2 linked regions of the Homo sapiens genome follow. The protein of the gene in region 2 interacts with the protein of the main gene of each other region in a pairwise test. Each region holds a gene or a part of one and is shown on either strand. Other genes may lie near its edges. The genes, in order: MFSD11 and LAYN.

Evidence for each region.
Region 1: the proteins of LAYN (region 2) and MFSD11 interact in binary tests that used the Homo sapiens proteins (3 or more experiments, as listed by UniProt).

Annotation. Positions count from the first base shown.
Region 1 is NC_000017.11:76,740,936-76,748,230, reverse strand, and holds part of MFSD11 (UNC93-like protein MFSD11), read right to left. Parts: intron 7,275-7,295; coding exon 7,167-7,274; intron 6,303-7,166; exon of another isoform or gene 6,263-6,302; coding exon 6,183-6,262; intron 6,055-6,182; coding exon 5,958-6,054; intron 4,834-5,957; coding exon 4,775-4,833; intron 3,910-4,774; coding exon 3,765-3,909; intron 1-3,764.
Region 2 is NC_000011.10:111,557,583-111,562,403, forward strand, and holds the end of LAYN (layilin isoform 2 precursor), read left to right. Parts: coding exon 1-61; intron 62-2,512; coding exon 2,513-2,876; 3' UTR 2,877-4,163; downstream 4,164-4,821. UniProt on the Homo sapiens protein: Receptor for hyaluronate.

The sequences.
Region 1 (7,295 bases), on a different chromosome or scaffold from region 2:
CACTTCTTCCTTCTTGGAGACCAGAGCCCACCACGCCCTTCCCACTGCCTGGCTTTGGCAAAGGCCACCCGCTGACCTTCATGTCTCACCAGCCACGTCTCAGGGAGCCACCCCACTCTCCCCCCTCCCCCCCACTCTCCCCCTCTTTCACAGTCTTCCTAACACTCACTTTGCTATTTTCTTACACGTGCATTGTCTACCACCCCCTCTAAAATTAAGTCCCGTAAGAACAAGGACTTATCTGTCTTGTTCACGCCTATATCCCTCAGGCATAGAAGAGGGCTGCCACAAGTCTGTGCTATTTGTAGAACAAAGACACAGAAGCTCCAAATTTAGGAGACGATTCAGGAAGAGAGAATGCTACAAAGGCTGAGCAGTATTTCTAGAAGAACGCCAGCTCACAGTTACAGAACCCCTCATCCACCTCCCCAACTTGGCAGTTCCTTAAAAACAGGGATGGGCGGCATTTGTCCTCTAGGACCAACACCAAACATGTGCTGGCTGAATGGGGGGGTCAGTTTTCATTGAATTTGTGGTATTCACTTTCACAGACTCCTTCTCCAGTAACTACTGGTTTGTGCTTTAAAACAAAATGTTTTGCCAGGCGCGGTGGCTCACGCCTGTAATCCCAGCACTTTGGGAGGCCAAGGCGGGTGGATCACGAGGTCAGGAGTTCGAGACCAGCCTGCCCAACATAGTGAAGCCCCGTCTCTACTAAAAATACAAAAATTAGCTGGGTATGGTGGCATGTGCCTGTAGTCCCAGCTACTCGGGAGGCTGAGGCGGAAGAATCACTTGAACCTGGGAAGCAGAGGTTGCAGTGAGCCAAGACTACGCCATTGCACTCCAGCCTGGGTGAAAAAGTGAGACTCCATCTCAAAAAAAAAAAAAGTTTCACCATGTTGCCCCGTCTGGTCTCAAACTCCTAAGCCCAAACAATCCACCTGCCTCAGCCTCCCAAAGTGCTGGGATTACAGGCGTGAGCCACTGTACCCAGCCCCAGGCACAGATGTTCTTAATGTGACCTACCTAGAATGATGACTCCTTCTCAAAAGGTTTACAATTTACTTTGCTTAGATCTGAAGAATCATTATCTATGGCAGCTATATCCTCATGAAATGTATTTCTTAAATAATAAGACTTGAAAGTTGAAATTAGCCAGGCATGGTGGTGCACGCCTGTAATGCCAGTTACTGAGGAGGCTGAGGCAGGAGGAATCTCTTGAACCCGGGAGGCAGAGGTTGCAGTGAGCCGAGATCCCGCCACTGCACTCCAGCCTGGGTGACAGAGCAAGACTTTGTCTCAAAAAAAAAAAAATGGAAATTACTCCTTGATCCAGGGGCTGCAGAACACATGTTGTTAGAAGGCATGAAAACAACATTCATCTCCTTGTACACCTCCAACAAAGCACTTGGCTGATCAGGTACATTGTCAATAAGCAGTAATATTTTGAGAGGAACCTTTTCTTCTGAGCAGTAGGTCTCAACAGTGGGCTTAAAATAGTCAATAAGCCATGCCGTAAACAAATGTGCTACCATCCAGGCTTTGTCACTGCATTTCTAGAGCCCAGGCAGAGTAGATTAAGCATGATTCTTAAGGGTCATAGGGTTTCTGGAATGGTAAATGAGCACTGGCTTCAACTTCAAGTCATTAGCTGCATTATCCCCTAACAAGAGTCGGCCTGTTCTTTGAAGGTTTAAAGCCCGGCATTAACTTCTCTCTAGCTATAAAATTCCTAGATGGCATCTTTTAATGTAAGACTGTTTGGTCTACATTGAAAACCTGTTGTTTAGTGCAGCTACGTTTGTCAATTATAATGGCCAGATCTTCTGGATAACTTGCTGCAGCTTCTCCAGCAGCACTTGCTGTTTCACCTTGCACTTTTATGTCATGGAGATGGTTTCTTTCCTTGATCCTCACGAACCAACCTCTGCTAGCTTCAAATTTTTCTTCTAAAGATTCCTCACGTCTCTCAGCCTTCACAGAATTGAAGAGAGGGACTTGCTCTGGATTAGGCTTCAGAGAATGTTGTGGCTGGGTTGATCTTCTATCCAGACCACTAAAACTTTCTCCGTATCAGCAATAAGGCTGTTTCACTTTCTTATCATTCGTGTGTTCCCTGGAGTAGCTCTTTTGAGTCCCTTCAAAAACTTTTCCTTTGCATTCACAACTTGGCTGTTTGGCACAAGAGGCATAGCTTTCAGCCTGTCTCAGCTTTCTACATGTCTTCCTTGCTAAGCTTAGTCATTTCTTGATTAGTCATTAGCCGGGTGTGGTGGTGCATGCCTGTAATCCCAGCTACTTGGGAGGCTGAGGCAGAGGCTGCAGTGAGCCGAGATCATGCCACTGCACTCCAGCTTGGGTGACAGAGCGAGACTCCGTCTCAAAAAATAAATAAATAAATAAATAAATAAATAAGTAAATAATAAAGTGAGAGACATGCATGTCTTCCTTTCACTTTAACACATAGAGGCTATTGTAGGGTCATTAACTGGCCTAATTTCAATATTGCTGTGTCTCAGGAGAAGAGGGAGGGAGATGGGGGATGGCCTGCAGTGGAACAGTCAGAACACACACAACATTTATCAATTAAGTTCACCACCTTATATGGATCTGGTTTGTGGTGCCCCAAAACAATTGCAATAGTAACATCAAAGATTACCGATCACATCTTATAACAGATGTCATAAGAATGAAATGTTTGAAGTATTGTGAGAATTACCAAAATGTGACAGAGAGACACAAAGTGACCACACGCTGTTGGAAAAGTGGTATGGAGAGAAAGACTTACTCGATGCAGGGTTGCCACAAGCCTTCAATTTGTAAAAAACCCAGTGTCTGTGAAGCACAATAAAGAGCAAGAAAGCAGGGCATGGCAGCATATCCAGACCAAAGCGCTGCCTTGCTTCTGCTTTACACAAACTTACTGCAAATCTGGAGCATCTAATGCTCCTATGACTGGACAATTTTAGGCCCTTTCTGGATTACAAAGTCAGCATGGGATGCTCAATGCGAAAGTTTTAACAATATATAAAATGCTATAAGGCAATCTTCACAATGTATCACAAACAAAGCAAAACAAGGGTGGCAGAGATTAATTTCTCATCTCTCCTTCCTCAAATCTAAATGATACTGCAGATCACTAGCCTGTCATGCTTAAATAGTGTCACCTGAAACTGAAATGTGCTTAGGTAATTTACAATTTTTACAAAACACAGGGTTGTATACTCATTCCCCTATTTGGACCACTCTGGGGAAAACCGCCTATGTAAGTTAGTGCAAGAGCCGGACACCATAAGCAAGAGCCTAGTGATAACCAAGGTTCATCTGTGACAACCATCACTGGCCCTGCCACTCACTCACACCACAAGAACAGGAAAGCTTTAGAGCTGGATCACAGAAACAGTAACCAAGGTCAACACTGCCTTCTATTTCCTTGCCCATGGAAACATATGGATTGAGTGAGAAAGCTGAGGCCTGGAGACATGAAAGGAATTGCTGCCACTGTCCAGGGTCACACACATCAGTGGCAAGGCCAGGAACAGACTCAACTTCCCTGTGCACCTTTTCACCACCTCCCTTCCTCTGGTGACCTTTTTTTTCTTCCTCCCTCGCAGCTCCTCCTTTATTTTCTTCCTTTTCTTGCCTGTGGTAACCTACAGAGAGTACTGGACATCAGTTAGGGCTAAACGGGTTGGTAATCTCTAGACTAGATCTACTCAAAATCTATTTTAAAATAAAATAGAATGTTTCCAACATCTTACTCGTTGACTTCCATGTCCTGGTCATCAGAAGACTCATCTTCTCCTAGGACATTTTCAGAATCTGGTTTCCGAATGAGAAAGAATAGAACTGTCCCCACAAGGCTAATCACCGTTAGGGCAATAAACACTGTTCTTCGGTCACTCTCTACGGAGAAAAAAGAAGAAACAAGATAGTATCGACCAAACAATTCCAGAATTAGTATCACGGTACAAGGGCTGCTTACAACTGTCAACACACTTCCTCGTTACATTTTTACTTTAATGCATCAGTAAAAACCTAGGAAAAGGAGACAAATAGGATACCTTCACCTTTGTCTTTCAGTTAGAGAAATATGAATAAGCCAAAGAAAAACAGCACAAGGGCTTAATCGCCTTCTTTTAATCAAAGAAGGGTCCAGAGAAAACAACTGAGCATTCAGAAGTCTTCTGAGAACCACATACTCGTGCGCAGTATTCTCGTAAGCTCGTGCACAGCATAACCTTCCCTTAGACCCTGAGAAGCCCCTTAAAGCATAGTCATAAACTATAATCCTAGTTTAGTAATAGAAACCAGGCTGGGAGGGATGGCTCAGGCCTGTAATACCACCAATTTGGGAGGCTGAGGAGGGCGGATCACCTGAGGTCAGGAGTTTGAGACCAGCCTGAACAACATGGAGAAACCCATCTCTACTAAAAATACAAAATTAGCTGGGCGTGGTGGTGCAGGCCTGTAATCCCAGCTACTTGGGAGGCTGAAGCAGGAGAACTGTTTGAACCCGGGAGGCGGAGGTTGCGGTGAGCCAAGATGGCACCATTGCATTCCAGCCTGGGTAACAAGAGTGAAACTCCATCTCAAAATAATAATAATAATATAAACCAAGGAAAAGTCTTACTAAAAGCTAAAATCTGCGAGAACTTGAGGTGTCGGGGTTCATGAGAACGATGCTTGAATAAAGCAATAATGGGTATTTCTATATAACTCCTATTATGCTTTGAACATATCTGAATAAAGCAACGCGAATAAAACAAACCTGATATCTGAGTTTTCCCTTGCCAGGCAAAATATATGTAGAGATTTCCAAAGAACAAGCTGGGGGAAGAAAAGGGAGGATAGGATGTTGGGTAATTATTTTAATATTTATAGTTTTTTAAAAATAATTATTCCCATTATTTGTTGTAAGAGAGGGAGAGAGAAGGACATCATTTTTAAAGTATCTACCTGTCCTGGGTCATTTAAAAGTATCAGCTTCATCTGGACTCTGATAAACTTAACTGCCCCAGATGGAATTCAGTCTCCTTCCATGTGACAGTAACCTGATTCAGAGGCACCCTTCAAAGAAGAATTGACTCACTTTGAAACATGTGATTTATTGCAACTCTGGAAATGACTCCCTGGAAATAAGCTTAAGCTAAATTTTAAAGAATCTGTTTCTAAAAATCCATGATTTAGTTATCTGCATCTAATCAAATACTTTCTTTAGCATACTTTCCTGAAAAATCATTCACTTACACACTAGTTTCTTAATATACAACTCTTTAAAATGTAACATTTGCATTTGTTAAGCCTTGTCAAGGCCAAAATTTTAGGCGCGATTCATGAGGGTGATTCCTCAGAAGAGATTCCAGAAATCCAACAGTCAAGAGCAGAATAGCTGTTTTGCTTTCTTCTTAAGAAAAATGTTAAGGCCAGGCACGGTGGTTCACGCCTGTAATCCCAACACTCTGGGAGCCCAAGGCGGGCGGATCACAAGGTCAGGAGTTCGAGACCAGCCTGGCCAACATAGTGAAACTCCGTCTCTACTAAAAATACAAAAAAAATTAGCCGGGCGTGGTGGTGGGCGCCTGTAATCCCAGCTACTCAGGAGGCTAAGGCAGGAGAATTGCTTGAATCCAGGAGGCAGAGCTTGCAGTAAGCCGAGATCGTGCCATTGCACTCCAGCCCAGGTGACAGTGTGAGACACCGTCTCATTTAAAAAAAAAAAAAAAGTTAGTATGCTATATTCAGTATTGGTATAAATAGTCCTGAGTAGCTAGTGAGCCACCATACTCAGCCATTATTACAAGTGATTCTATAAAATTGGAATCACGTCACATTTAGCTAGAACTTAAGTCACGTAACATGGAAGATCCAAATTGTCAACCAAAGACCTAAAAAATGGTATGACAGAAAAAAAAGAAAGAAAAGGAAAGACTGAACCTCAAAAGGATAATTACCTAGACTGCAGAAGTGCCCAGAAAATCCCACTGTTTCTCCCAATGCTGTGCTCATCCGAATTGATTGTCAGGCAGTTTCCTTGTGCTGTCCAAAGCACTAAAATTCAACCCAAAAGTTTATCAAGGGAAAGAAATTCACTTAGAGTCACATACTAAACACATAAATAATACCCTTAGATAGGCCCCAGAAAAGAAAGCAGAGAAGTTAAAAATCAAAATGCTTACCAGCAGCAGCAATTCCAATGAAAACAGAGGCTGTGTAGAAGGACCACGGGAAAGGCTGGATGAAAACGGCAATGTACATGCTAAAATATAACAGGTCAAGGTATTACAGTCAAACGATACCTGAAATAGAATGCCAATTATGCCTTCTAGGAATCAGTTCTGACATTCTCTTCTTTTAAAACTCAACCTGTAAAGGATCGCTCCAGTTTTGAAAAAAGGGACACAATCAACTTTCTCATTTCTTAATTAATTAATTTTTTTGAGACAGGGTCTCACTCCATTGCCTAGGCTGGAGTGCAGTGGTACCATCACAGCTCACTGCAACCTCCACCTCCTGGGCTCAAGCCATCCTCCCACCTCAGCCTCCTAAGTAGCTGGGACTACAGGCATGTGCCACCAAGCCCGGCTAATTTTTTTTTATTTTTGGTAGAGACAAGGGTTTCACCATGTTGCCCAGGCTGGTCTCGAACTCCTGGACCCAAGTGATCCTTGGCTCAAGCAATACCTCGGCCTCCCAAAGTGTTGGGATTTACAGGTGTGAGCCACTGTGCCTGGCCCATAATTTATTATTTCAGATTTGCAAAATCAGACATTTTACAGGTTTGCAGTGTTCTTTGCCAAAAGCTTAGCACATCATGGAACTATAGTTCTAGAGTTCAGAGAAAGATTTAGTTATTTCATTTGAATCCCCACATATTTTCAGTCAATTGACAGAAAATAAGATTATTTCATAGAATGTTCTTTTCAACCCTCATAGAGACTTTTGGATACTATTTTTATTAACAATAAAACAAAAGCAGATATAGATACATCCTATCACATTAGAATATGATATCCCTGAGCAACAAGTACTGAGCCAAAATTCGTAAAATACCACCTATATTCTATTCAGTCCAAGTCTATAAATTATTGTGAAGTTTACTATCTACTTGAAAGATCCTGACAAGTGTTCTGATTAAATAAGTGCAAGATTACACTACTTACCTGTAAAATAAACCACTGGCAAACATAGAGAGTTGAGGTCCTACAATGGCAACCACTGACGGTGTAATCAAATTTGAAGCAGAGAACACTCCATAGATAATAGCCATGCTGCACACATAATACACAAAC
Region 2 (4,821 bases):
CCCTTCTCCTCCTCCTTGTGGTCACCACAGTTGTATGTTGGGTTTGGATCTGTAGAAAAAGGCAAGTAAAACCTTCATTGTGTAAACCTTTGCATCTTCTGCTCTCTTTGAGATTTGGATATTGCCTTGTTTACTTCATTAAAACCCACGGCAGCACCAAGAGTATCACCATTGCAGATTGGAGAGTGGGTTCTCTGACAGGTCAGGGCATTCAGAAGTACTAGGCATTTGTGCTTAGTTGTGATTAAGAGAGTGATCTTACTTGCTTTACTGTCTGTACGTGGAAGATTTTAAAACAACTTGAAGGGTGAAATTGCATTATTCACCTCCCGTGCACTCACACGTCACCCAGCAAAAATGCTCTCATGAATGTATGCCCTCACTCTGAAAATGTTTGTGGACTGAGTGAAGGAATGAATAGTGAGCCATATGAAAAATGACTGCTGCAAAGTATTCTGGTAAACATCTGAAACTAAACCACTTAATTCAAACTGAAAGAGCCAAATTCCTTTTAACTGACTTTTCTTTTAATTCAGTACACAAGTATAGAGTGCTATAAAATAGCTACACTAGGTGGCATCAACAATTTCTGTATATGGTCAGGATCGTGTGCCACTATTTTATTTTATTTTATTTTATTTTTAGTACTGAAAGCTCTTCTCAGTTACCTTTTTATTCTCCATCATCATGGTATATGGAGAAGATGTCTAGTATTCCCATTTACAACAGGAAAACTAAGGCCCAATTTAAGATTTGACTCCCTTTAAAGACCAATTTGAGATGAATTAGTAAGATTCCAATGTAAAATCTATTTCAGTTAATTGTAACTTCCTTGTAGGATTATTATAAGGATTAAGGCAGTTAATACTTGCAGAATAAGTATATACTAAGCACTTGAATGTTACCTATTATTGGGATTATTTTATTAGTTATTTCCTTTGAATCTTAAAGTAGAATTTAGTTCAAAAAATTACAGGCATATTTTCCAGCTGCCTACTCTGCCTACTCAGTTGGTTCTTGATTTCCTTTCCTGACTCTCTGTTTTGTACTTTAACAGGATTTGGGAATTGTGACTCTAAAGCTGGGGTGTCTGTCTATCCCAAGGGTTTTTAATCTTTTTTGTGCCCTGCAGCAGTCTGGTGAGGCCTATGGACTCCTTCCAGAACAATATTTTATTTTATTTATTATTTTATTTAAAAAAATATATATATATATATATATTTGAGACAGAGTCTTTCTCTGTCGCCCAGGCTGGAGTGCAATGGCGCAATCTCGGCTCACTGCAACCTCCGCCTCCCGGGTTCAAGTGATTCTCGTGCCTCAGCCTCCCAAGTAGCCGGGATTACAGGCACATACCACCATGCCTGGCTAATTTTGTATTTTTAGTAGAGATGGGTTTCACCATGTTGGCCAGGCTGGTCTCGAACTCCTGACCTCAGGTGATCCGCCCACCTCAGCTGCCCTAAGTGCTAGGATTACAGGCATGAGCCACCACACCCGGCCCAGTACAATATTTTAAATGCATAAAATAAAATACATTGGGTTGCAAAGGAAGCAATCATACTGTTATATAGTTTAGCAAAATATTTCCAAAAATGAATATGTGATTAGTAATACATGTACTCCTTTATTAATGCTTCTTTATTTAGTGCTGGGTATAATTATTATAATTTTGAAGTAGAGATGAGGTTAAAATATTTCAAGGCATCTATAACTGTGATATGAAAACATCTATAATTTCTAGTAGTGATCAAGTCAAAGATATTAATCCTGCTGTTTTATCTCTTACATTCATAATGGAAGGACATGCTAAATTTCACTTATGGATGAGTCGTGTTTTTTGTTGTTTTGGTTTTATTTTATTTTATTTTATTATTTTATTTTATTTTATTTTATTTTTGAGACAGGGTCTCACTCTGTCGCCCAAGCTGGAGTGCAGCGGTACCATCACAGCTCACTGCGGCCTTGACCTCCCAGGTTATCCTCCCACCTCAGCCTCCCAACTAGCTGGGACTGCAGGTGTGCACCACCATGCCTGGTTAATTTTTGTATCTTTTATAGGGACGGGGTTTTAACATGTTGCCCAGGCTGGTCTCAAACTCCTGGGCTCAAGTGATCCACCTGCCTCAGCCTCCCAAAGTGTTAGGATTACAGGCGTGGGCCACTGTGCACAGCTGAGGTGTTTTTTTGTTTTTTTGGGTTTTTTTTGTAATGTGGTATTTTTTCTCTATTCAGTTCTATCCCTGGACACTCCAGGGACTCTAGGGAACCCCAGGATAATAACCCTGCCCACACTTGGGCAGCAGTGAATGACAGATACACAATCACTTTGAACATAACATCTCCCTGTTTGGTTCCCTCCCACTCCGAAGCCCTGGCCTGTAAGTTACATAGACGAGACATGCAGCTGGGTGACTGCCCAGGGCTGCTTCCTCTCGTCTCAACAGGAAGCACAAGGGTATTCTCAATCACCTGGTCTAAAACACTCAGCCCTGGTTTTCTTTCTTCCTAGAAAACGGGAGCAGCCAGACCCTAGCACAAAGAAGCAACACACCATCTGGCCCTCTCCTCACCAGGGAAACAGCCCGGACCTAGAGGTCTACAATGTCATAAGAAAACAAAGCGAAGCTGACTTAGCTGAGACCCGGCCAGACCTGAAGAATATTTCATTCCGAGTGTGTTCGGGAGAAGCCACTCCCGATGACATGTCTTGTGACTATGACAACATGGCTGTGAACCCATCAGAAAGTGGGTTTGTGACTCTGGTGAGCGTGGAGAGTGGATTTGTGACCAATGACATTTATGAGTTCTCCCCAGACCAAATGGGGAGGAGTAAGGAGTCTGGATGGGTGGAAAATGAAATATATGGTTATTAGGACATATAAAAAACTGAAACTGACAACAATGGAAAAGAAATGATAAGCAAAATCCTCTTATTTTCTATAAGGAAAATACACAGAAGGTCTATGAACAAGCTTAGATCAGGTCCTGTGGATGAGCATGTGGTCCCCACGACCTCCTGTTGGACCCCCACGTTTTGGCTGTATCCTTTATCCCAGCCAGTCATCCAGCTCGACCTTATGAGAAGGTACCTTGCCCAGGTCTGGCACATAGTAGAGTCTCAATAAATGTCACTTGGTTGGTTGTATCTAACTTTTAAGGGACAGAGCTTTACCTGGCAGTGATAAAGATGGGCTGTGGAGCTTGGAAAACCACCTCTGTTTTCCTTGCTCTATACAGCAGCACATATTATCATACAGACAGAAAATCCAGAATCTTTTCAAAGCCCACATATGGTAGCACAGGCTGGCCTGTGCATCGGCAATTCTCATATCTGTTTTTTTCAAAGAATAATAAAATCAAATAAAGAGCAGGAAACAGAGTGTTAGTCTGTGTCTACAGCCCTTCCTCTGCATGTGGCCACAGGGGACCTTTTTTTGTTTCTCCTGACATCCAGACTTGGAAATATCTAACTACTTGCAAAACTAAAAATGAGGCCAGGCGCAGTGGCTGACGCCTGTAATCCCAGAACCTTGGGAGACCAAGATTGGAGGATAGCTTGAGTTCAGGAGTTCCAGACCTTCCTGGGCAAAATAGTGAGACTCTGACTCTACAAAAAATTTAAAAATTAGCAGGGCATGGTGGCATGCGCCTGCAGTCCCAGCTACTCAGGAGGCCGAGGTGGGGGAATTGCTTGAGCCCAGGAGGTTGAGGCTGCAGTGAGCTAGGATCACGCCACTGCTCTCCTGCGTGGGCAACAGAATGAGACCCTGTCTCTAAACAAAAATATTTTTTAAAGAAACTAAAAATGAAATTTGAGTCTCAGCTTCTAGGCTTATGTACTCCCATCCCTGATACTACACGTTGTTCTGTTTGCATGTTTGTTACTGCAGCATCAACATAACATGACTAATAATGATGACAGTTCTACCTTTTGTTGACAGACCTCATTGTTTCAATTGTGTTTGGCCTCAAATTCAGAGAAAAGTTTCTCAGCCCAGCATCAATCATATACACATTGGAGGTCTGAAAGCCATTATTTAAATCACCAGCAATTTCCCTCAATCAGCTTCATAATCTCATATTTTAACCTTTCCTCATATGTCTTATTTTTTAATAGCTCAGCAACTTTGCTTCACATATGGAGCCCCAACCTCTAGAGTTAACTAGTCTGGGTCAAAGCAGTATCGAATGTAGTGGATTGGAATCCCTGCCAAATTATCTGCCCTACTGCAGAACTGAATATACTAGGAAACAAAACTCCCTGTTTTGGGAAGTGTGTTTTGTGGTTACATTTCAAGCAAAAACTGAGCACATGGTCCTGAAGGACTGATTCACTGCTCTAAAATGCCCAAGGTTCCATTCTTGCTTCAGACAGCCTCGCTCTATCATCTGCCCTGTATCCTGCACTGTGCCCCACAACTCTGGCCCTTATTACACTGCAAGCTTCGCTAGTAGGAATCCTATCTGCCGGTCAGCATCATGGGTCCTGCAACCCATGGCAGCACCTTGCAGGGTAGGCAATCAATGTCTATTGAATGGATGAACAATGCATCTTTTCAGACTGATGTCAAATAGTTTGAATATTTCAGCTTAAAAGTTTGTTTTTCACAGTCCCCCTAGGTGGAGGAGGTAACTGAGTCATTGTAATTGGAATGCCTCCCAAGAAGGAAGCATAGTAACAAGTAAACAGATGCTGGTGAATTGTGCTAACAACTTACTTTATGTCACTCATGCTTGAACTGAGGACCCACTGTTAATCTATAAAGGGAGTAAGGTTGTAATCAGAACAGACCCTCAGCATCTTCCCTTCCCTTTTTT